Linked DNA regions of Homo sapiens: regions 1 and 3 are each linked to region 2. Evidence: fine-mapped expression QTL. A gene starts in region 2. Each other region holds a variant in brackets. All regions are shown on one strand. Distances are between the middles of the regions.

Region 1 (7,025 bases), 28 kb after region 2:
TCCCAGGTGATTGTACCTGTAAAGGAGAAAATGGAGAAAAAGACAACATTCTATCAAGGAAGCAGATGACAGAGCCTGAGCCTGGGGGGCTTGTCCCTCCAGGGGGAAAAACCTTCATTGTGGTCATCTGTGACGGAAAGTAAGGGCCTGGAGGTCTGGGGAGAGCCGCGTTTTTAAGTTTCTCTGATACTTCTAGGTTGGGTGTTATAAAAGGTACTCCTTTGTGGCGGGTGGATCACCTGAGACCAGGAGTTCGAAACCAGCCTGGCCACCATGGCGAAACCCCGCCTCTACTAAAAATACAAAAATTACTTGGGCCCCTGTAGTCCTAGCTACTCAGGAGGCTGAGGCAGTAGAATCGCTTAAATCCAGGTGACGGAGGGTGCAGTGAGCCAAGATCGCACGACTGCACTCCAGCCTGAGACGGAGCAAGACTCTGTCTCAAAAAAACAAAAAGGTACACCTGACGTTTTTGATGTGACAGAATCCTAAGAAAAAGCATTGGTCTAGAAGCTGGGTACCAAGTGTGACCCACCTGGGGCAATGGATCCTGTAACTTCGCACGACTCATGAGGGTCCTCACCAGATGGCCTCTCACCCTCACAAAGAAAACAGGGTGTCTCTGAGGCTCTCTGAGGCCTGAGCTCCCTGTGCTTCTGCTGTTCTGAGACATCACGTTGGCTCCTCTTCACTGCCTTGCCCGTGTTCCGCATAGCCAAGCCCTGGGGCCTCGGTCATCTCCATCCCGTCACCTGGGCATTTGGCCAAGGCACGGACAGCACAGTGTGCTGAGGGAGGGGCAGGAAGGGCCCCTTCCTAGCTGGGATGCCAGACGCCAACCTTGAGCCCTTCGCTCTCCCTGGTGTGGTTGGTTACATCAGCTGACCAAACAGGCCCTGTCCTCCAGCTCCCTGTGTCCCTGCATCCCTGCCTAAGCTGCCCGACAGTGCGTGATAGCCTTCCAGCTGGGTGTCTAATTCTAAATTTTTTGAAAAACTTAAATCTGATTAAATCACAGCTCATCAACATCAAGCTGTGGGTGGCAAGTGCACAGTCAGCTGTGTGAGGTGCAGCCAGCTTCAATGCTTTTTTTTTTTTTTTGACATTATGACAACATAGAAACAGGTTTTTTCAAAAAAGCCATAGGTGCTAACACAGTGAAACCCTGTCTCTACTAAAAATAAAAAAAATTAGCTGGGCGTGGTGGCGGGCACCTGTAGTCCCAGCTACTCAGGAGGCTGAGGCAGGAGAATGGCGTGAACCTGGGAGGCGGAGCTTGCAGTGAGCCGAGATCACGCCACCGCACTCCAGGCTGGGTGACAGAGCGAGACTCCGTCTCAAAAAAAAAAAAAAAGCCATAGGGGGGCACAAAGTGTAGTGTGGATGATGTAGCCCCAGTTAGAGCCACAGCGAGGACTGGGCAGAAAGCACATTAGATATAGTACCTATTTTTGGTCATGTCATAAAATTCTGACTTAAAATTGGGAATATCAAAATTTTTTCCTACTCTTATATGTGTTAGGATTACAAAAAAGACTATTGTAGATGCTTACTTTTTTTTTTTTTTTTTTTTTTTGAGACAGGGTCTCACTCTGTTGCCCAGGCTGGAGTGCAGAGGCATGATCACAGCTCACTGCAGCCTCCACCTCCCTAGGCTCCCACCTCAGCCTCCCGAGTAGCTGGAACCACAGGCACACGCCTCCATGTCCGGCTAATTTGTGTATTTTTTGCAGAGACAGGTTCATCCTATATTGCCCAGGCTGGTCTCAAACTCCTGGGCTCAAGCGATCTGCCCGCCTCAGTCTTCCAAAGTGCTGGGATTACAGGCCTGAGCCACCGCACCGGGCCTGTAGGTGCTTAATTTTATCTTGAGAAAATATTAATTACATAGCTTATTTTAGAAGATCTCTTTTTTCTCTGTAAAAAGAATTATTGAAGACTAAAGATGAGTCTTAACTCTGTCACTTTTCTTGTATGTACAAAGGAAAATTGTGTTGACTGCCTATCTTATTTATGACTAAAACTAAATTTCATTTTGTTTTTTTCAAGAAATCCTGGCCGCTGCAAGGAGCTCCTTTTGCTCTGTTTTTCCGATTTCCTAATTGGGCGATACCTTGAAGTAAATGTTATCAGTGGGGAGGAGTCACTAATTGCTGCGCGCGAACCATTTTCTTGGAAAAAGCTTAAAAGTTCACAAGCGTTAACATCCGCAAAAACTACAGTTGTTGTGACCGCACAGAAAAGGTACCATAACTGAAATGAGTGTGGCTCTTGGTCTGGCAGTTTTATCTGTGAAGGAAAAGCGGACGTGCACTGGCAAGCGGTGGCTACCACCTGGCTGGGGAGGTATAAAGGGGATGAAGCTGGGGTTCAAGCCTCTTTCCATGATTGTATTTGGGGGATGGAGTGCATTTCCACGGAGCTCTGAAGGTCAAGTTCTGTCTCTGCAGCTGCCCAGCAGCAGCGTGAAGCCCAAGGAAGACGGCCTTCACTCCCCCAAGCCCCACTCTGCTCTGGCAGTTCCAAGGTGGCTCTCAGAGCAGGCTGGCCTCACCCAGCTCCTGCCACCTCTCCCGTCCTGACGAGGCCATGGTGTGTAGTGCACGGCATCCCCGTGTCATTCGCACTGGGGGCAACAGGATTGTGGGGTCACCTGAAGCCTGTTTGAAGATGTGGTACCACTTAAGAATGGAGTTAGGAGAAGCAGTGTGTGATCTGGGACTTGTGGCTGGGGAACATAGGGACCACCCAGATTTTAACTGGAGGGTAGTCTCAGGAAAGCACTTCACATCCACGTGTTCTCTTCTGTAGTTATAAAACGAAAAAGCCCTGAATAGCAGGCTTTTTAAAGTGTAATGACTTAGTCCCGTGTGATGTGACTTTTCCTCCATCGGCTATAATAACTGATGGGTTTGAGCTCTGCTACTACCCCAGACCTCCCTGAGGGTGAGGTGGGTCACTTTTCTAATACTGAAAGATTCTGAATTTCAAATCACGTGTTGCCCCAGTTACAGTTCAAGATGAGGGATTATGGACTTCTACTTAGTTGCAGACTAAAGGGAAAACCTGTTACCAGGGAAGAATATCATGTGGTTGTTTACCTTTTAAGGTTAGACCATTGTTTGAATCACAGCACCACCACCAAGAAGCTGTGTGACCTTGGGCAAGTTTCTTAACCACTCTGAGCCTTGTTCTCATTGGTAAAATGATAGTCCCTGCCTCGTGTGGTTTGAAGATTGAATGAGGTCAGACATGTAAAATGTGCAGTTTTCTGGCACAAAGCAATCACTCAGTAAGCGAATAAGCAGTCATGATCCCTGGGCATATTATTATTGAGAAAAAGGGGCTCACTGCCTGATGCACTAGGGGCCATTGCTACGACAGTGGGTTTCTGAGAAAAGAAAAGCTTTGTATTGAAAACCAACCCCCAAGGAGACAGGAGTCAAGCTCAAATGTGTCTCTCTGTGCTGGCTTTAAGGCAGTAATTTTGTCAGAAAACGTTTAGTGGGTAGAATCTGGGATTAATAGGTGGTTGGTGGAAGGAAAAGGGAGGTCTGGAAAGGCCTTGGGTGTGCATAGTTACCCCTTCATGCTACCTCATGGGTCACATGTGCCAGTTCGGAGGGAGTTCGCATGAAACACGGTGGGAATCCAGGCTGTGACGTCAGTAAGCTCTGCACAAACTCCAGTTGTCCATCTTGGTTCCAGCTGATCTCAGCCAGTCCTTTGATGTCATAAGCAGGGGGAGACTCAGCGCTGGAGTTGTTTCTTATCACCCATCCTGCAGGCTCAAGAATTTCTGTTAGTCATCGGTTTCTTTAACTCTTTGGGGCACAGTTTCAACATCAAGGGGCTGTAGGGATGTAACCC[A/G]GAAAAGGAGCAGGAAAGTCCCTCGGCTGCCAGGCAGAGCAGAGTCCCCGAGGATCGAGTTTTAATGACAGGAGCCTTGGAGGATCCCTGGTTCTCATCTAGTGACACACCAAGCAGCTTTCTAGTTATCATTTGGCTTAACAGAAAGAGTGAAATACACAGAGCAACAGCCACAAGGATTTTAACCCCCTGGTCAGTTACTTCCCCGTGAATATTAACATATTGTGTGGGAGCGTATCTAAAACAAGGACATCAGTTTCCTGCCACTCAGGTTAGTGACCCAGAGTGCCTGACCCGGGTTGGCTCGAGCACACCTGGAGCACCAGGTGTCTGGACCTGCCCACGCGGGCATTGGCGGGTGCCTGCTTCCAGAGCTGTCCATCCGTGGCCGCCTGTCACAGGTCCTGCACTTCCTGCTAGGACCCCCAGTGCCAGGCAACTTTGGCTCTTAGCTAGAGCAGAGTGTTCACTTAGCAGATCTGTTCTGGGGGGCTTTGTAGGCCAGCACACTCCCAGCCAAGTTTCTAGCCACCCATCATGGTAGGAACCACATTTTGTTAATCCAGCGTGTCTGTTGAGGCCACATGGTTCTGTTAGCTGTTCAGGCTGTTGACCTAAGCCTGTAGTGATCATCCTGGTTTCCCTTTACCTTGTTCGTGTTAGTAATCAATGCTTTCCAAATACACCTCGCATGTGAGCGCTGACATAACCCTCAGCACAAACCATGGGGAATGTCTTCACCCCGTTTCTCCTGTTGAGGGCTGAGCCAGTGGAACCCAAATTGAGATGACAGTGAATGGAATACGGAGAGCAATGTGGGCTTCTCTCTTGGGTGAGACTGCACTGAAATGGAGAGCTGGGAGGGAATGAGGGATAAAGGTCCAACCAACATCCTTATTTGCTGAGTTGAGTTTTATCGACCTCACTCTGACTTTTCGTTTCCCTGTTCTCTCCTGGCTTCTCCTCTCCTGTCTGTCCCTTTCCCATTGTTTCTGTTGCCGCATTGGGCTTGGCTCCAGAGCAGCGATGTTCTTCATCCTGAACAAACTGAATTTCCCCAGAGAAACCACAGGCTGGGAAACAAAACAAAAACAAATCGAAGGCAGGACCCAGACAGAGCAGCCTTTTCCTAATGTGTGCTTTGCAGGGATAGGCCCAGGTGGAGTCCTGATGTCAAATATAGTAGGAAGAGCTTAGCTCATAGAATGTTAAAAACAGCTGTTTCCAAACTCCTGGTTCCAGGAGATTCTGGGGGTTCCAGCCCTGTTTTCCCACAGCCTGTGCAGCTACACTTACCTGTTTACAAATAGTAGAGCACTTGTGGGAACTGTTTGAGGAAAGGATCCCAGAGCTAAAACGAAAGCTTCAAACCACTGCCTTAGACCAGCTATTCATATATCAGTTCTTCTCAGGAAATGGATGGACTTTGGTCTTCCTAAAATAGGAAAGGATGTTTAGGTAAGAATGTCTAGTGATACCTGGTGATAAAGACTTATTTTTAACTTGTGAACTTAATTTTTTAAGGAACTCAAGACGACAACTTCCAAGTTTTCTTCCCCAATATCCAATCCCAGATAGACTTAGAAAATGTGTGGAACAAAAAATTGACATCCTGACTTTCCAGCCATTACTTGCAGAGGTAGGAAGTGTCTCATGGCCTGTGGGGTGTTGGCATCTTCTAATGCTCTTGTTTTCTGACAAAGCCAGGAGGTTCCTTCTCAGGTTCAGACCTTCATCTGGCTTGTTTTCTTCACAGGTAGCTGGGATAACGAGGGTCACTGCCTGGCCGTGAGGGATGAGGCACCATAGCACTCACGCTGCCAGACCTGCTGTACACCAGGGGCTGGCATCCCACAGCCTCACTGGGGGTCACGCACAGGGCCTTTGGGGTCTGGAGCAGAAGAACTGAGGGATACCTCTGCCATCAGCCTGGCCTCTCTCGCTAGACTAGGAGGCCTTTGTTATGAGCAAGAAGTGTTCTAGCCTTTTACCATCATCCTGACAGAGCCAGCAGGGCAAGGGTCCAGGGGAGGAGAGCCCAGGTCCCCACCCACATGGGAGACAGAGGAGCACGTTCTGAGTGGGGTAGGTGGAGAAGAAAAGTTCAAGAAGGAAGAAAAGTCTATAAATTTGGCAGTTTGAGGGGAGAACATTGCCCTTTGTCCAGGAGGGTTTTTTTCTGTAGGGGTTTGAGGTGTTCTGAGAGTCCCCAGCTAAACTGGAGTTCCAGTGCCAGAGCAGCTGGCAGCCCTGTCCTAAGGAGAATGAAGGGAATGGGACCTAGGTGTTCACCATGCGCCCTTCAGGGGATCCTTTCCAAATACACCTCCTTGTTTAAAAAAATGTCCTTGTTTTACCAGGAGGACAGCTGATGCCCCATGACCGGGGTTCCTCACGCAGGAAACTTATTCTGGCAGACGCCCCAGTGGCTCTCGTCTGACCTGTATCCAGGTTATGCCTGCCTGATCATCTGGCACTGGGAGCCCAAACTTATGTTCCCCAATGCCAGGGAAAACCCGGCCTGGGCAGTGCTGGGTTCTTAGGATGGAAGGTGCAAATTCAATCCACTGCCGTGATAGAAACAAGTTCAGATGTGTTTTACTCACAGATCCTGGGCAGGGAGGTTGCCATGAGTCGCGAGCGCAGTCCTCTGTCCCCCAGTCACTTTGAGTTTGTAGGCAAATGCCTGAATGGTTCATCGAGGTGGCAGAAAAAGCTGGACCTGGGTCTGCTAGGATGGAGAGGTGCTCCTCAGCTCCTCCCTGGGGACCCAGGTCTGCTGGGCTTGGAGGGTGCTCCTCAGTTCCTTCCACAGGCCACCGACTTGATGTTTTGATGCTGCAGCTTTGTAGTAAGTTTTGAAATCAGGAAATTTGAGTCCTCCAGCTTTGTTGTTCTTTGGCAGAATTTATTTTGCTTTTCAAGATCTTTTATACGAATTTTAAGATGCATTTTTCTATTTCTGCAAAATATAGCATTGGAATTTTTTTTCCCCAGAGACGAGGTCTCACTACATTGCCCAGGCTGGTCTCAAACTCCTGGCCTCAAGTATTCCTCCCGCCTCAGCCTCCCAAAGTGCTTGGGATTACAGGTGTGAGCCACTGCACCCGGCCTGTCATTGGAATTTTGATGGGAATTGCATTGAATCTGTAGAT
Region 2 (7,025 bases):
TTAGTGTGTTATACAGTGATATGGTTTGGCTGTGTCCCCACTCAAATCTCATCTTGAATTGTAATTCCCATAATTCCTACATGTCGTGGAAGGGGCCCGGTGGGAGGTAATTGAATCATGGGGGTGGTTACCCCCATGCTGCTGTTCTCCTGACAATGAGTGAGGTCTTATGAGATCTGATGGTCTTTTATAAGGGGCTTTCCCCGCTTTTGCTCAAGACTTCTCCTTCCTGCCACCTTGTGAAGAAGGACATGTTTGCTTCCCCTTCCACCATGATTGTAAGTTTCCTGAGGCCTCCTCAGCCCTGTGGAACTGTGAGTCAATTAAAGCTCTTTCCTTTATAAGGACTTGACTCTAAAATTACCCAGTCTTGGGTATGTCCTTATAGCAGCGTGAGAACAGACTAATGCATCCAGTGACACACATGATTTCCTCTATGAGGGAAAAGAAGTCAGGGGAGAGAAATGAGGGGCTGCTGTTTGCAGGGGCCAGGGCAGGCCTCAGTGAGAAGGAGGCAGGGAGGGGAGGCTGGCAGAGTTGAAGCAAAGGCCACAGGTTGGGGAAGGCAGGCGAGGACCATGCAAGGGGGATACAGGTAGGACAGCCAGGTGCCAGCACCTGTGGGTATGGAGACGACTCTGCTTCAACTCTGAGACAGACCTGCTGGAGGGGTCTGGGCAGAGCAGCATCCGGTCACTCACTGGGTGGAGAGCAGGCTGGGGGGTGGGAGGAGCAGGTGCTGCCTGGCATTGAGGTGGCAGTGGGCAAGTGGTGAGGAGGGACTGGGCTCTGAACAGGGTTTGAAGAGCGGACGCAATCTGCTGTCAGGGCGACGTTGCTGAGTTCTGTCTGAGCAGTGAGGACAGAGATGAGAAGACCAGGGTGGAGCAGGTGTGGAGCGAGGATCTGGAGTTCCATTCTGGACATGATGAGGCCGAGATGTCTGTGGGCATCTGCCGGGTCTACTGAGTCCAGAATCCCAGGGAGTGGCCCGAGCTGGGGAGCTGAGGGGCAGCCCTGCAGGCACAGCACCCGCTGCGAGCTGCCCTGGCAGGGAGCCCATGAGCCACCAGCCCTCATGCAGCTCGCTCTTGTTTCCAAGCTAATCTCCCACCAACCAGTAGGTCCCTGGGACCCTGCTGGCTCCTGTATGTGTTCCAGCACCCAGCCCAAGACACAGGCTTAGCGGGGATTTGAAATGCTAGGGAGTGCGCCACTCTCTCCCTTCCCACAGCAAGAACTATCAGTACACTCTGCATCCATGGACAGGCAAGGTCCAGGCTGTCATCAGACTGACAGATCTGACCTAGGAAAATAAAGCTATGTCAATCAAAAATAAGTCGGGGCTGGGCGCAGTGGCTCACACCTGTAATCCCAGCACTCGGGAGGCCAAGGCGGGTGGATCACCTGCGGGTCAGAAGTTCGAGACCAGCCTGACCAACATGGTAAAACCTTGTCGCTACTAAAAATACAAAAAAAAAAAAAAAAAAAAAAAAAAAAAAAAGCCAGCGTGGTGGCGCACGCCTGTAATCCCAGCTGCTCTGGAGGCTGAGGCAGGAGAATCACTTGAACCCGGGAGGTGGAGGCTACAGTGAGCTAAGATCATGCCACTGCATTCCAGCCTGGGCGACGGAGCAGGACTCCATCTCAAAAAAAAAAAAAAAGAAATAATAAAAAACAGAAACCACTGGAATAGTAAAGATATATATACGTATTTTGTTTTTGTTTTTGTTTTGAGGCAGAGTCTTGCTCTGTCTCCCAGGCTGGAGTGTAGTGGTGTGATCTCAGCTCACTGCAACCTCCACCTCCTGGGTTCAAGTGATTCTTCTGCTTCAGCCTCCCAAGTAGTTGGGATTACAGGCATGCGCCACCATGCCTGGCTAATTTTTTTTGTATTTTTTTGTAGAGACAGGATTTTGGCAGGTTGACCAGGCTGGTCTCGAACTCCTGACCTCAAGTGATCTGCTCACCTTGGCCTCGCAAAGTGTAAAGATATTTTTAAAATAGAGAAAAATCAATGAAATCAAGGGATGATTTTTTTTAAAAACTCAATAAAATTGATAAATATAGACTGATCAAGGAAAATGAGAGGGATGAGATAAATTACCTATGTCAAGAATGAAAGATGGCTCATCATTATGGACCATACAGACGTTAAAAGGATAATAAGGAAATATGCTGAACAACTTTATGCCAATAATCTGACATCTAATAATTGGATGAAATGGACAAATTCCTTAAAAGAATTACCAAAGTTTATTCAATATTACCTTGATAACTTGAATAGCCCTCTAGCTGATGCAGAAGTGAATTTCTCATTAAAAACCTTCCCACAAAGAAATCTCGAAGCCCAAATGGGTTCCCCAGCGAATACTACCACAATTTTTAGGGAATAAGTTACCCCATCCTACTCCCAGGTCACTGCAGGCCCGGCTTAAACCGACCCCAAACCAGACAGACACAGAAAACGGGAGGTCGGCCACAGAGCAATCTGCTTCACCAGCACCGTCCCCAACCTTGGACAAAGCGTTACCAAGCTGAGTCAGGCAATACACCAAAAGGATAACGAATCGTGACCAAGTGAGTTTTCCAAGGAGAGCCAAACAATGTAATTCCCTATGGGCTGAAATAAAAAGCTACAGGATCATTTGAATACATGCAGAAAAGCGTTGCAGAAAATTTCACACCCACTCATAAGAACTCTTGGAAAAACAGGAATAGAGGGAACTTCCTCAACTTGATAAAAAACACCAACAAAAAACGACTCCTAACATCACTCTGGGTGGTGAAAGCGCACTTTTCCCTAATGTGTGGGCGGCAAGAAGGCGGACCCGCTCGAAGCTCCGCCCACCCACGCGAGGCCCCGCCCGCCCGCTCGAAGCCCCGCCCACCCGGCGGTCACACCGCCTTGCGCGCTCGGCATGACGTCACTCCCACCAGGCACCTCGCCTTGTCAGGAGCTGCCAGGCGCCAACCGCCGACCTCTGACCGCTACGGGTCCCGGCTCGCGCAACGACCCCAAGGCGCATGCCCAGGCGCGGCGACCCCATTGGTGGCGGGCGGCGGGAGCGGCGCGGGCGCGTGCGGGCGGCGGCAGCGGCGGTGACGGCAGCCTAGGCCGGGCGAGGGCCATGCTGAGCCTCGCAGCCAAGCTGGTGGCCTTCTTCTGGAGGACGGCGGACACCCCTAGGGAGGAAGCCGGGCAGCTGGAGCCCGAGCTCGCGGAAGGTGGCTCGCGGGAGGCGGCTGGGAGGCGGGTCCCGGGCCCTCGCGTGTCGGCCACGAGGGAGCCGCGCCCATAGGTCTTTGAGTGCAGTGCGGGCCGGCAGGCAACGCTGGGCCCGGCCTTTCCTCATCTCCGCTGGCGGGGATCCCCGTTCGCCTCAGGAGGCTTCCGACCCCACAGCATCCCGCCGCTCTGGGCGCCCGTCCTCTGTGAGGTCTCTCCGGTGACACCAGCCCCTCTTCCCGCCCTCACTTTGTGTGTTTACGCCGAGCAGCTGCCAAGTCGTCTCTCCATGTCGTTCCTCCCTGTCCGCAGCGTCATTGGCGGTGGTGTGTCTAGAAAGCCCCGAAAAACGCGGCCCCGCAGACTTGGCCTGTCCTTTCAGAACGCGCTGCGCCAAGGCGTGCCATTTCCTTGTCTGGTTTTCAAGCCCATCTTTCTAAAGCCCGGGATGCGCCCGGATGCCCTCACCGTTCCTTTCTCCTGAGGTGTTTGTGTGTGTGTGTGTGTGAGACGGAGTTTCGCTCTTGTTGCCCAGGCTGGAGTGCAGTGGCGCAATCTCGGCTCACCGCAACCTCCGCCTTCTGGGTTCAAGTGATTCTCCTGCCTCAGCCTCCCGAGCAGCGGGGATTATAGGCACCCGCCACCACGCCCGGCTAATTTTTGTATTTTTAGTCGAGGGGGGGTTCGCCATGTTGGTCAGGCTGGTCTCGAACTCCTGATCTCAGGTGACCCACCCACCTTGGCCTCCCAAAGTGCTGGGATTACAGGCTTGAGCCACCACGCCCGACCTCTCCCGAGGTTCTGATGGCTTCTCCCGATGTTTCCTTATGTGGGAATGGAATCCACAGTAGTGGGTCCCTAATTGCCTTCTGTGAGAAAAGACAGGAACAGGCTTCAGGAGGGGAGCTTCCTGCTGCAGGCAGCGTGTTCAGGGCCTCTGGATCCACGAGGGCCGATGCCCGGGGGGCCGGCTGTGTTACCTGGAGCACTTGCTCCGTGGATCTCTTCGGTAGAACACGCGCTCAGCGGTAGCTGGAGCTCCAGCTCTTGGCAGCGCTCAGATCCTATGCCTGTACTGTAACCGTCGCCCCAGGTTCCTCCCGTGGCTGGGAAGCTGCAGTAAAGGCACGTTCAGGACTCAGGACCGTGGCTGCAGCAGTGGCCAGACGGCTGAGGGCGTGCGCTGCTCCTGGGCCAGACTTGTCTGCCCAGCCCCGAACCTTTTCCAGCACCGTGTTTGTTGAGATTCTCCAGTCTTCCGAGGCTGCTGCTGATGGTAATAAAAAGATAATCGATAGTACTAATAAAACCGTGCATGCTAATGACTCCCAGATGCTGATATAAGTGGCCATTTACATAGCACTTAACGCGTGTCAGCCACGCAGAGGTCCATACATGCACGTGTGTTCTGCCACTTAACCCTTCAGCAGCTCTCTTGGGTAGTGACGATTAGTCTCCATCTTACAGATGGCAACAGGCCCAGAGTAGTTAAGGACCTAGTCCAGGGTTACACCAATGGCAGTAGAAGAGCTAGGAGTCAACCCCATGCAGTCTGTTGTGGAGTCAGGGCTGTCACCTCCACAACCACTACCTGTGCCCTTCTGAGGAAACTGGGCTGTCTGCCTCCAAACCCCACGTTCCAGACACAGCACTCTCTGATGGGATTCTCTCTGTCTCAAGTCAGCCCGTTCGGAGTCAGTGCCTCCGAACTGCAAAAAAAGGAGGCTTTTGCACTCTGCCTTTCTCTGGTGGGGTTCACTGTAGCGTACGCTTGCTTTTATGGCCAAGATAACTTCTTTGTTTACCTACCTCAGGTGACACTAAGCTGAAAACTGTACGGGGTGTCGTGACAAGGTACTGCAGCGATTATGGCATGATTGATGATATGATCTACTTCTCCAGTGATGCTGTGACTAGCAGAGTGCTTCTGAATGTTGGACAGGAAGTGATTGCAGTTGTGGAAGAAAATAAAGTGTCCAATGGACTGAAAGCAATCAGGGTAAGGTTTGAGTTCATTTGGGAACAGTTTTTCTTCGCCACGGGACTTTGTGTTGTTTTTCCTTGTGTTTAATCTATCAGACATGACCCGGCCAAGGGAGAAAGAGTGGAATGTACCTTCAAGGGGATGCTTTTGCTCTTTATGATTTATGTTTTAAAAAATAGACTGGGTACAGTGGCTCACGCCTGTAATCCCAGCACTTTGGAAGGCTGAGACAGGCAGATCACTTGAGCTCAGGTGTTAAGAGACCAGCCTGGGCAGCATGGTGAAACCTCGTGTCTACAAAAAAAAAACCCACAAAAGTTAGCCTGGTGTCGTGGCACATACCTGTAGTCCCAGCTACATGGGAGGCTGAGGCGGGAGGATCGCTTGAGCCCAGAGGGTCAAGGCTGCAATGAGTTATGATTGCACTACCACACTCCAGCCTGGATGACAGAGCAAGACCCTGTCTCAATAAATAAACAAACAGCAGTCTTTGTAAATCATTCAAACAACATAGACATGTATACTTTAGAAAGTAAAGTTTGCCTATGAATTTATGCTGTGGAGAACATAGCAATTATATATCCATTATTTTCTTGCTTTTTCAACAATTTAATGGTTATCACCAAAGTAACATCAATAATATACAAATTTATACTCTTAGGAGCAGAATGAGAGACTGCACTTAATTTGCACTTAAGCCTTAAGTATGGTAACTTTTCTTTTTCTTTTTGTTTTTGTTTTTGTTTTTTTCTGAGACGGAGTCTCTGTCGCCCAGGCTGGAGTGCAGTGACGCAATCTCAGCTCACTGCAAGCTCCGCCTCCTGGGTTCACGCCATTCTCCTGCCTCAGCCTCCTGAGTAGCTGGGACTACAGGCACCCACCACCACACCCAGTTAATTTTTTTGTATTTTTAGTAGAGACGGGGTTTCACCGTGTTAGCCAGGATGGTCTGGAGCTCCTGACCTCGTGATCTGCCCACCTCAGCCTCCCAAAGTGCTAGGATTACAGGTGTGAGCCACCGCGCCCGGCCTCATGTTTTTTCTATGAATTATTTTTGGGTCCTTTGTCCACATTTTTGTTGAGTTCAGCTTTTTCTTTTGTTAAAGCTTATATATTAGGGAAATCAGAGCTTTTTAAGGAAAATTATTATATGAAAGTGTTAGGAATATTTTCCCCAGGATCATCTTTGACTGTGTTTTATAGTTTCATTTTTTGTAGTTAAGTGTGCCTCTTTTCCATGTAGCTTTTGGATGCTGTAAGAAGCCTTAGGGAGGCTTATTCCACTTCTTATTCCTAATATTCAAATTTTACTCTGAAAATTGTTTATTGACAATTAGAATTTTTTTTTCAATTTTTGAGACAGAGCTTTGCGCTGTCGCCCAGGCTGGAGTATAGTAGTGCGATTATAGTTCACTGCAGCCTGGAACTCCTGAGCTCAAGCGATTCTTCCACCTCAGCCTCCTGAGTAACTGGGACCACAGGTGTACACCATCATACCTGACTAATTTTTAAAATTTTTTTGTAGAAATGGCGTCTCACTGTGTTGCGTAGGCTGATCTGAAACTCCTGGCCTCGAGTGGTCCTTCCACCTCGGCCTCCCAAAGTGTTGGGATTACAGGCATGAGCCACCATGCCTGGCCTGTTTGTTGATATTTAAATATTTGACCTGCCTGGAATTTATTTGGGTGCACAGACTGAGAGAAGGAACCAGACATTGCTTTCCTAATGGCTAGCCAGTCATCTGAGTAGCTCACTTTTTCCCTGCTGATTTGGAAAATTCCTTAATCATGTATCAGAATCCCACCTGCATGT
Region 3 (7,025 bases), 38 kb after region 2:
GTTCAGGCACAGGTGGATCAGTCATGGGGCCCCCATGGATTGTTTCCCCAGTCTTGGGATCACAATCCTTTGCTACGTGATGTTCATTGTTTAAACACCATCGTTTCTTATTTCTCTGTCTCTTTAAGTTTTTTTCAGGTAGAAGGGTAAATCTGGTCCTTGTTAGTCCACCTTGGCCAGACCTGGAAGTTTGTCCTTTTTTCACAGATGTCTGTGGAAGCCAAATTCTGCCTTCCCAGAATTAACGTGGACAACCTGAAAAAGAGCAGGGAGGGTGGACAGGAGTGGGCAGTGCAGGGAGGGACACCGCCAGCTGGAGCCCCACTGCCTCATGCCAAAGGCCAGGGAGTGTGCTGGAGCCCCATGGCCCTCGTGCTGAAGGCCGGGGAACTTACTGAGGCACCTGCAGACTCCGGCGAGGATCGCCCCACCTGGGGGGCCATCTGCTGAACTGGAGCTGTTGGAACTTTCCTGCTCCGGAGCTGCTACTTTCCAGAGTGCTGCTGAGCTGTTGCTGACTTTATAACATTTGGGTGTTTTCCAGCTTCTGAACATGTCAAATTACAAGGAGAAGTTTTCGACTTTGCTGTGGCTTGAGGAGATTTATGCAGAAATGGAACTGAAAGAGTATAACATGAGCGGGATCATCTTAAGAAGGAATGGGGATCTGCTGGTTCTGGAGGTCCCAGGGTTGGCCGAAGGGAGGCCTTCTCTCTACGCAGGTGTGTTTGTTACTCATATGCTTCCCTGGGTGGACTAGCAGAGAAACCATACTTGAGAGAAGATACTCTTTAACTGGCAATATGACAGTCACATTATCGCATTTTCTTTCTTTTGGGTTAGAATTTCACTAAAAATCAGCAACCGATGTACATCAAGCATGTTTCTTTGTTGTATTTCATTAGTTGTAAGCAGTTGACCCCAGTAATGTTTTTGTTTGTTTGTTTGTTTGTTTTTTGAGGTGGAGTCTCGCTGTGTCGCCCAGGCTGGAGTGCAGTGGCGCAATCTCAGCTCATTGCAACCTCTGCCTCCCGGGTTCACGCCGTTCTCCTGCCTTAGCCTCCCGAGTAGCTGGAACTACAGGCGCCCGCCACCACACCCGGCTGATTTTTTTTTTTGTATTTTTAGTAGAGATGAGGTTTCGCCGTGTTAGCCAGGATGGTCTCGATCCCCTGACCTTGTGATCCGCCCGCCTCGGCCTCTCAAAGTGCTGGGATTACAGGCATGAGCCACTGCACCCAGCCTGACCCCAGTAACGTTTTATTGAACCTCCTCAGTGTTGGATTTTATAGGACAGCACAGAAATTTGTGATTTTGTGTTAGCTTTAAACATGGTAATATATTTTTTAACTAGGTGATAAACTGATTTTAAAAACTCAAGAGTACAATGGACATGCCATCGAATACATCAGCTACGTGACTGAGGTGAGAGCACTCTCTCTTAATGAGTTTGTGTTAGACACACCCTTCTGACCGGTTGGAAAGGTAACGTTCTCCCCACGGCTCTTGGGGAGATGCTCCCATATGCATTGGCTATTTTGGAAAATGTCAAGATACAGTGAATCTTTAAATAATTTTTGATGCATAAAGGAAACTTAATACTATAATTTTCAACCATGTAAAACATATTTATCTTTTAGGTTATATGTAAGTCATGAGGTTTGCGTTGAGTTGTATTTGGGCATTCTGAATGTATTCCAGAAGAGCTCGCAGAGTGGAGGCCTTGAAAGGAAAAATACACCTATGAGTTTGCAGCTCTGATGTTTGCGTGAAGGTGGTTTTTTTGGCTTTGAGTAGATCCTGGTGCTCCAGATGGTTCTGCATGGGGTGGTCTGTGACTCTTGGGCTGGACTTTACTGGTCATGTACTGGTCATAGCACTGGGAGTGATACTGGGATCTGCATGAGAAGGGAGGTGCTCTATCTGTGCATCAGAGAAGATGAAGCCACACATTACTTAATGTAGAAAACTTGAAGGGAGAATGCCAGAGCCTTTACTGTCAGAAGGAAGAAGGGCTGAGAGAACTAGAAGAGCCTGATAAGGATCTGGAGAAGAGGCAGCTTCCGACCTTTGATGCCACAGTCACTCTGCGCTACACCTTCATGCAGGGTCCATGCTGTGGCTGATTTCACAGAGTGGGATATTTCCCAGAAGACAACATCTTGGCAGGATTTCAGAGATTTTGTAATGAATTAGGCCATCGCCTGTGGACTGAGATGTGAGACACGAGTGACATGACCTCGCCAGCTCTCCATTACCCACCTTTGCTGTTGACCAAGTTGACATGAGGAGCCCAAGATGGCCGAATGACCATCTTAGCCTCCTAGACCAGCTGTGCCAAGAAAGGAAGCTTTGCATACCAAAACCTCCAAAGAAGCAGAGCCAGAGATCTCAGGAGGAAGGCACCTGCCTGCCTCCACCCCTGGTTCCTGAGCCATATGGCCGGGCCTCCATGCCATTGATCAAACCCTGGCATCTGAAATGACCTTCCGTATCCTTTTTAGCTCCAAAAATTATTTTCATCTTTTCAGGCTTTCTTGGATGCCACCTGCACCTGTTCTCAAGTAGACTAACGCATGTCTCCTGTGTATAGTCAGGACTTGGTCTGTCTTCCTCATCCTCAGGGGAAACAATCCCATGGCCCTGTACCACTGTTGCTTCCCTTCCTCCCGGAGCTGGAAGCCATCCCAGGGCGTAGCTTCCCGACTCTCTGCTGGTGTCAGCCCTGACCCTCAGGAAACTCACCCTACCAGGGTGTTGCCTGAGTCACCTGGAGAAGAGCTTGAGCTCCTTTTCAGATCAGGGCTTTCCTTCTTATTTTTCTACCCATACTGTCTAGGAAAGAATATGCAGAACTGATCATGCAGGATCTTGCTTTAGCTGGAGGGCTTTTCTACTAAAAGGATAAGTCTTGTAATGACTGTTTTTTTTGTTTTTTTTTTTGAGATGGATTCTCACTCTGTCACCCAGCCTGGAGTACAGTGGTACGATCTTGGCTCACTGCAACCTCCGCTTCCCAGGTTCAAGAGATTCTCCTGCCTCAGCCTCCCAAGTAGCTGGGATTACAGGTGCCCAGCACCACGCCTGGGTCCTTTTTCTATTTTTAGTGGAGATGGTTTCGCCCCGTTGGCCAGGCTGGTCTCAAACTCCTGACCTCAAGGTGATCCGCCCACCTTGGCCTCCCAAAGTGCTGGGATTACAGGTGTGAGCCACCGCACCCAGCAGACCTTCTTATCGAGGCTTCCTTACAGTAGGTAACACTTGGCTACCCTTGTGGTTGTTTTGTTTGTGTCCTATGGAGTCAGTGACCTCCCACACATTCTCTATTCTCAGAGCCTTAGGAGAGGCTACAGCCAAGTGAATAGAAGTTCAGTAAGTATGAGTGTGTAGTGATCCATTTCCTCTTGTTTGTATAATCGAATGGCGTAATGATTTAATCCTTTTCAACTAATTTTGCAGATATCAAATTTTAGCTCAGAGCTATAGAATGAATTTTTGATGATGTGTCGCTAGATAAAGATATCACATTATTTCAAGAAATCAGGTATATTGTTTGTTCCTTTTTTAGATTCATGAAGAAGATGTAACTCTTAAAATTAATCCAGAATTTGAACAAGCCTATAACTTTGAACCTATGGATGTGGAATTTACATATAATAGGTAATGCTTTTAGTGAGTCTTCTTTCAAATGTCTTTTTTTTTTTTTTTTTTTTTTGAGACTGGGTCTCATTCTGTTGCCCAGGCTGGATTTCAGTGGCGCAATCTCGGCTCACTGCAACCTCCGCCTCCCAGGTTCAAGCGATTCTCCTGCCTCGGCCTCCCAAGTAGCTGGGACTACAGGTGCCTGCCACCACGCCTGGCTAATTTTTGTATTTTTAGTAGAGGCAGTGTTTCACCATATTGGCCAGTCTGGTCTTGAACTCCTGACCTTGTGATACGCTTGCCTTGGCCTCCCAAAGTGCTGGGATTACAGGCGTGAGTCACCACGCCC[G/A]GCCATCTTTTTTTTTTTTTAATAGAGATGGGGTCCCAGGCTGGTCATAAACTCCTAGGCTCAAGCGATCCTCCTGCGTCAGCCTCCCAAAGTTTTGGGAGTATAGGTATGAGGCACCATGCCCAGTTAATTTGTCTCTTTATCTTTAATTGGACAGTGTTCTCTTGAGTATGTCTGTTGACATCTAAGTAGTGACGTAGGAGCCCCCACCATGCCTGTGGTTGACGTGTATAGGCCTTGTGGATGGAAGTGGGCTCCTACAGCATTTTTGCATACCCCGTGTTTCTAGCTTTATTATCAACTATTTTTTGAGATATAAAGGTGCATACATTTGCATGTGTATTCTTTCCCAGATCTCATGTGCACCGGATCTTTGGTTCATGCCTCACTGTCACCGTCAGCTACCAGCTCCTTACTTTTATTTGTTTTCTTGTCGGATGAGGGGTGCTGTGACCTGGCACCCAGCTGGCTTTTTCTTCCTCCACAAAACCATTAACTAGTCATGCACAAAAAATGTATTCTTCAGTTTTAATTCTTTTGAACTTTAGAAAAGGAGTAACTTGCTGTATTTGGTTCCTAGGAGTCGAGATTTTCACTAAACATTGTGTTCCTGAGATGTCTCCGTGTTGTTGTAACTGCTGTTCATTGGTTTGCGGTTGTGTGAATACCCGCTGTTTTTCTGTTGATGGACATCTTCATTGTTTGCTGTTACGATTGTTTGCTGCTGTTCCTAGAGCTGCTGTGTATGTAGGGATGGGATTGCTGGGTTTGGGGTTTTTCCAGCTTTACAAGTGGTTGCATCAGTGACTTTCAGTATCCATGTGTATAACAGCCTGCTGATCGGTGCCCTTTCTGTAATCTGATTTTGTTCGACTTCCTAATTGGTGCCAGTCTGGTAGGTGTGTAATGCATCTCATGATGGTCTTGATTTACTTTTCTCTGACTTATTTACAAGGCTGAGAATCTTCTTGTTCGTGGGCCGTAAAATGTTCCTCTTCCATGAAATGCTTGCTTGCGTCTTTTGCCCTCTTTTTTATTGAGTAATTTATCCAATTTTCATTGTTGTGGGAGTCCTTTCTGTATTCCTTATGATAAACTATTCTTAGGTACATATCTTCTCCAGATTTCTTCCTTATCTTTTAGCTTTTTAAAAAGTATCTTTTGAGGCTGGGTGTGATGTAATCCCTAACACTTTGGGAGGCCAAGGCAGGTGGATCTCTTGAGGTCAGGAGTTCGAGACCAGCCTGGCCAACATGGGGAAACACTGTCTCTACTAAAAATACAAAACTTAGTGGGCATGATGGCACATGCCTGCAGTCCCAGCTACTTGGGAGGCTGAGGCAGGAGAATTGCTTGAACCCAGGAGGCGGAGGTTGCGGTGAGCTGAGATCATACTACTGCACTCCAGCCTGAGACAGAGCGAGACTCTGTCTCAAAAAATAAATAAATAAATAAATTTTATATATATATGTCTTTTTATTAACAGAAGGTGCTAGTTTTAATATAGTCAAATTTATCAAATTTTTTTTAATATTAGTGCTTTTTATGTCTGTCTGAGAAATCGGCAGTATTTGGGCTACAGCCAGATTGGAATGTATTGAGAATGAATGAATGGACTACGGGGGAATGGAGAAATGTCGTTGATTCCTTTTTAAGGCATTTGCCGATGAAAGCAGGGAGGGCAGGATGGAGAGAGAGCGAGAGAAATTGGTGACCAAAGAGATACAGGAGGACCAGGAGGGGGGTACTTTTTGTTTGCTGTGCAAGATGAGAGACCCCAGCATGTGAGTGCCATGAGAAGACCCAGGAATGGGAAGGAAGGGGCAGCTGTGTTGGATGATGACGTGTGAGGGTTGGCTGGGACCACAGGGAGCAGCAGCGCTGGTAGAAGGCACACAGCCTCCATCATGGCAGCTAGAGAGACTGCAGCCGACGTCCAGGCCTGGACTCCTTGACCTGCTTTGACTCTGGAACAGAGCTGATTCTTGTAGTGTGAAGGGATATCTCGTTGTGGATTTAATTTGTATTTTTCTAATGACTAATGATGCTGAACATCTTTTCTTTTTTCTTTTTTTTGAGACGGAGTCTCGTTCTGTTACCCAGGCTGGAGTGCAGTGGCACGATCTCGGCTCACTGCAAGCTCTGCCTTCCAGGTTCACACCATTCTCCTGCCTCAGTCTCCCGAGTAGCTGGGACTACAGGTGCCCACCACCACGCCCGGCTAATTTTTTTTTTTTTTTTTTTGTATTTTTAGTGAGACGGGGTTTCACTGTGTTAGCCAGAATGGTCTCAATCTCCTGACCTTGTGATCTGCCCACCTTGGCCTCCCAAAGTGCTGGGATTACAGGTGTGGGCCACCACACCCGGCCACTGAACATCTTTTTATGTGCTTTTTTGCCATTTGTACAAAATACTTGTTGAAGTCCTTCCTCAAGTCTTTGGGCCCATTTTAAAAAATTGTTTTCTCATGATTGAGTTTGCAGAGATGTTTGTATAGTTTCAGTACAGTGCTTTATCAGATACGTGTCTGTGCAAATATTTCCTCAGACTACAGCTTGTATTTTCATTGTTTTTATAGTGCCTTTTGAAATGCAGAAATTATTAATTTTGGTGAAGTCCAGTTTATGAATGTTTTCTTTCACAGATCTTTTAATGATGCATCTCAGAAATCTGTAACTAATTTGGATCTCAACGATTTTATCCTGTTTAGAAACTTGGCAGCTTTATCCTGTACATTTAGGATTATGATCTATCTCATTAAGCTTTGCAAATTGTTTGTGGGGTATGAATGGAAATTGGAGGGTGGAATGAACATCCAGTTGTCCAAGCATTATTTGATGAAAAAACTGCCCTTTCTCCAATGAATTACTATTGTACCTTTGTGAAAAAAAAAAAAAGAAAATCAGTTGACCAAATATTTGTTGATCTGTTTCTGAAGACTCTCTGTTGTGTTCCATTGTACACTTGTCTGTCTTGACACCAACATTACAGGGTCTTATTGTCTGTCTTAGTACACTCAGGCTGCATTAGCATA

Which allele goes with the higher level. Positions count from the first base shown, and alleles are read on the strand shown. Sizes are in standard deviations (SD) of each study's normalised expression.
For the expression in fibroblasts of the gene that starts at base 3,049 in region 2, A is the low allele of the variant in region 1 and G is the other (small effect, 0.19 SD a copy in GTEx).
As copies of G replace A in region 3, the expression in subcutaneous fat of the gene that starts at base 3,049 in region 2 goes down (moderate effect, 0.69 SD a copy in GTEx).

Evidence for each region. PIP is the estimated chance that this variant, and not a neighbour inherited with it, causes the effect. A credible set is the group of variants that fine-mapping cannot tell apart.
Region 1: its variant is the best candidate, but not a certain one, in a credible set for the expression of MOV10L1 in fibroblasts (GTEx, PIP 0.81).
Region 3: its variant is the best candidate, but not a certain one, in a credible set for the expression of MOV10L1 in subcutaneous fat (GTEx, PIP 0.75).

The regions. Positions count from the first base shown.
Region 1 is chr22:50,115,108-50,122,132 of GRCh38, forward strand. MOV10L1 (Mov10 like RNA helicase 1) reads left to right here. Exons shown (of 27, transcript NM_018995.3): 8 at 7-139; 9 at 2,050-2,244; 10 at 5,395-5,509. Among named protein-coding and RNA genes, the nearest start is that of MOV10L1, 29 kb to the left of the region's middle. The variant A/G (reference allele first, on the strand shown) is at 3,871.
Region 2 is chr22:50,086,958-50,093,982 of GRCh38, forward strand. It overlaps MOV10L1 (Mov10 like RNA helicase 1), which reads left to right and starts at 3,049. Exons shown (of 27, transcript NM_018995.3): 1 at 3,049-3,228; 2 at 5,044-5,228. The coding sequence starts at 3,132.
Region 3 is chr22:50,124,848-50,131,872 of GRCh38, forward strand. It overlaps MOV10L1 (Mov10 like RNA helicase 1), which reads left to right. Exons shown (of 27, transcript NM_018995.3): 11 at 545-722; 12 at 1,355-1,425; 13 at 3,569-3,660. Among named protein-coding and RNA genes, the nearest start is that of MOV10L1, 38 kb to the left of the region's middle. The variant G/A (reference allele first, on the strand shown) is at 3,992.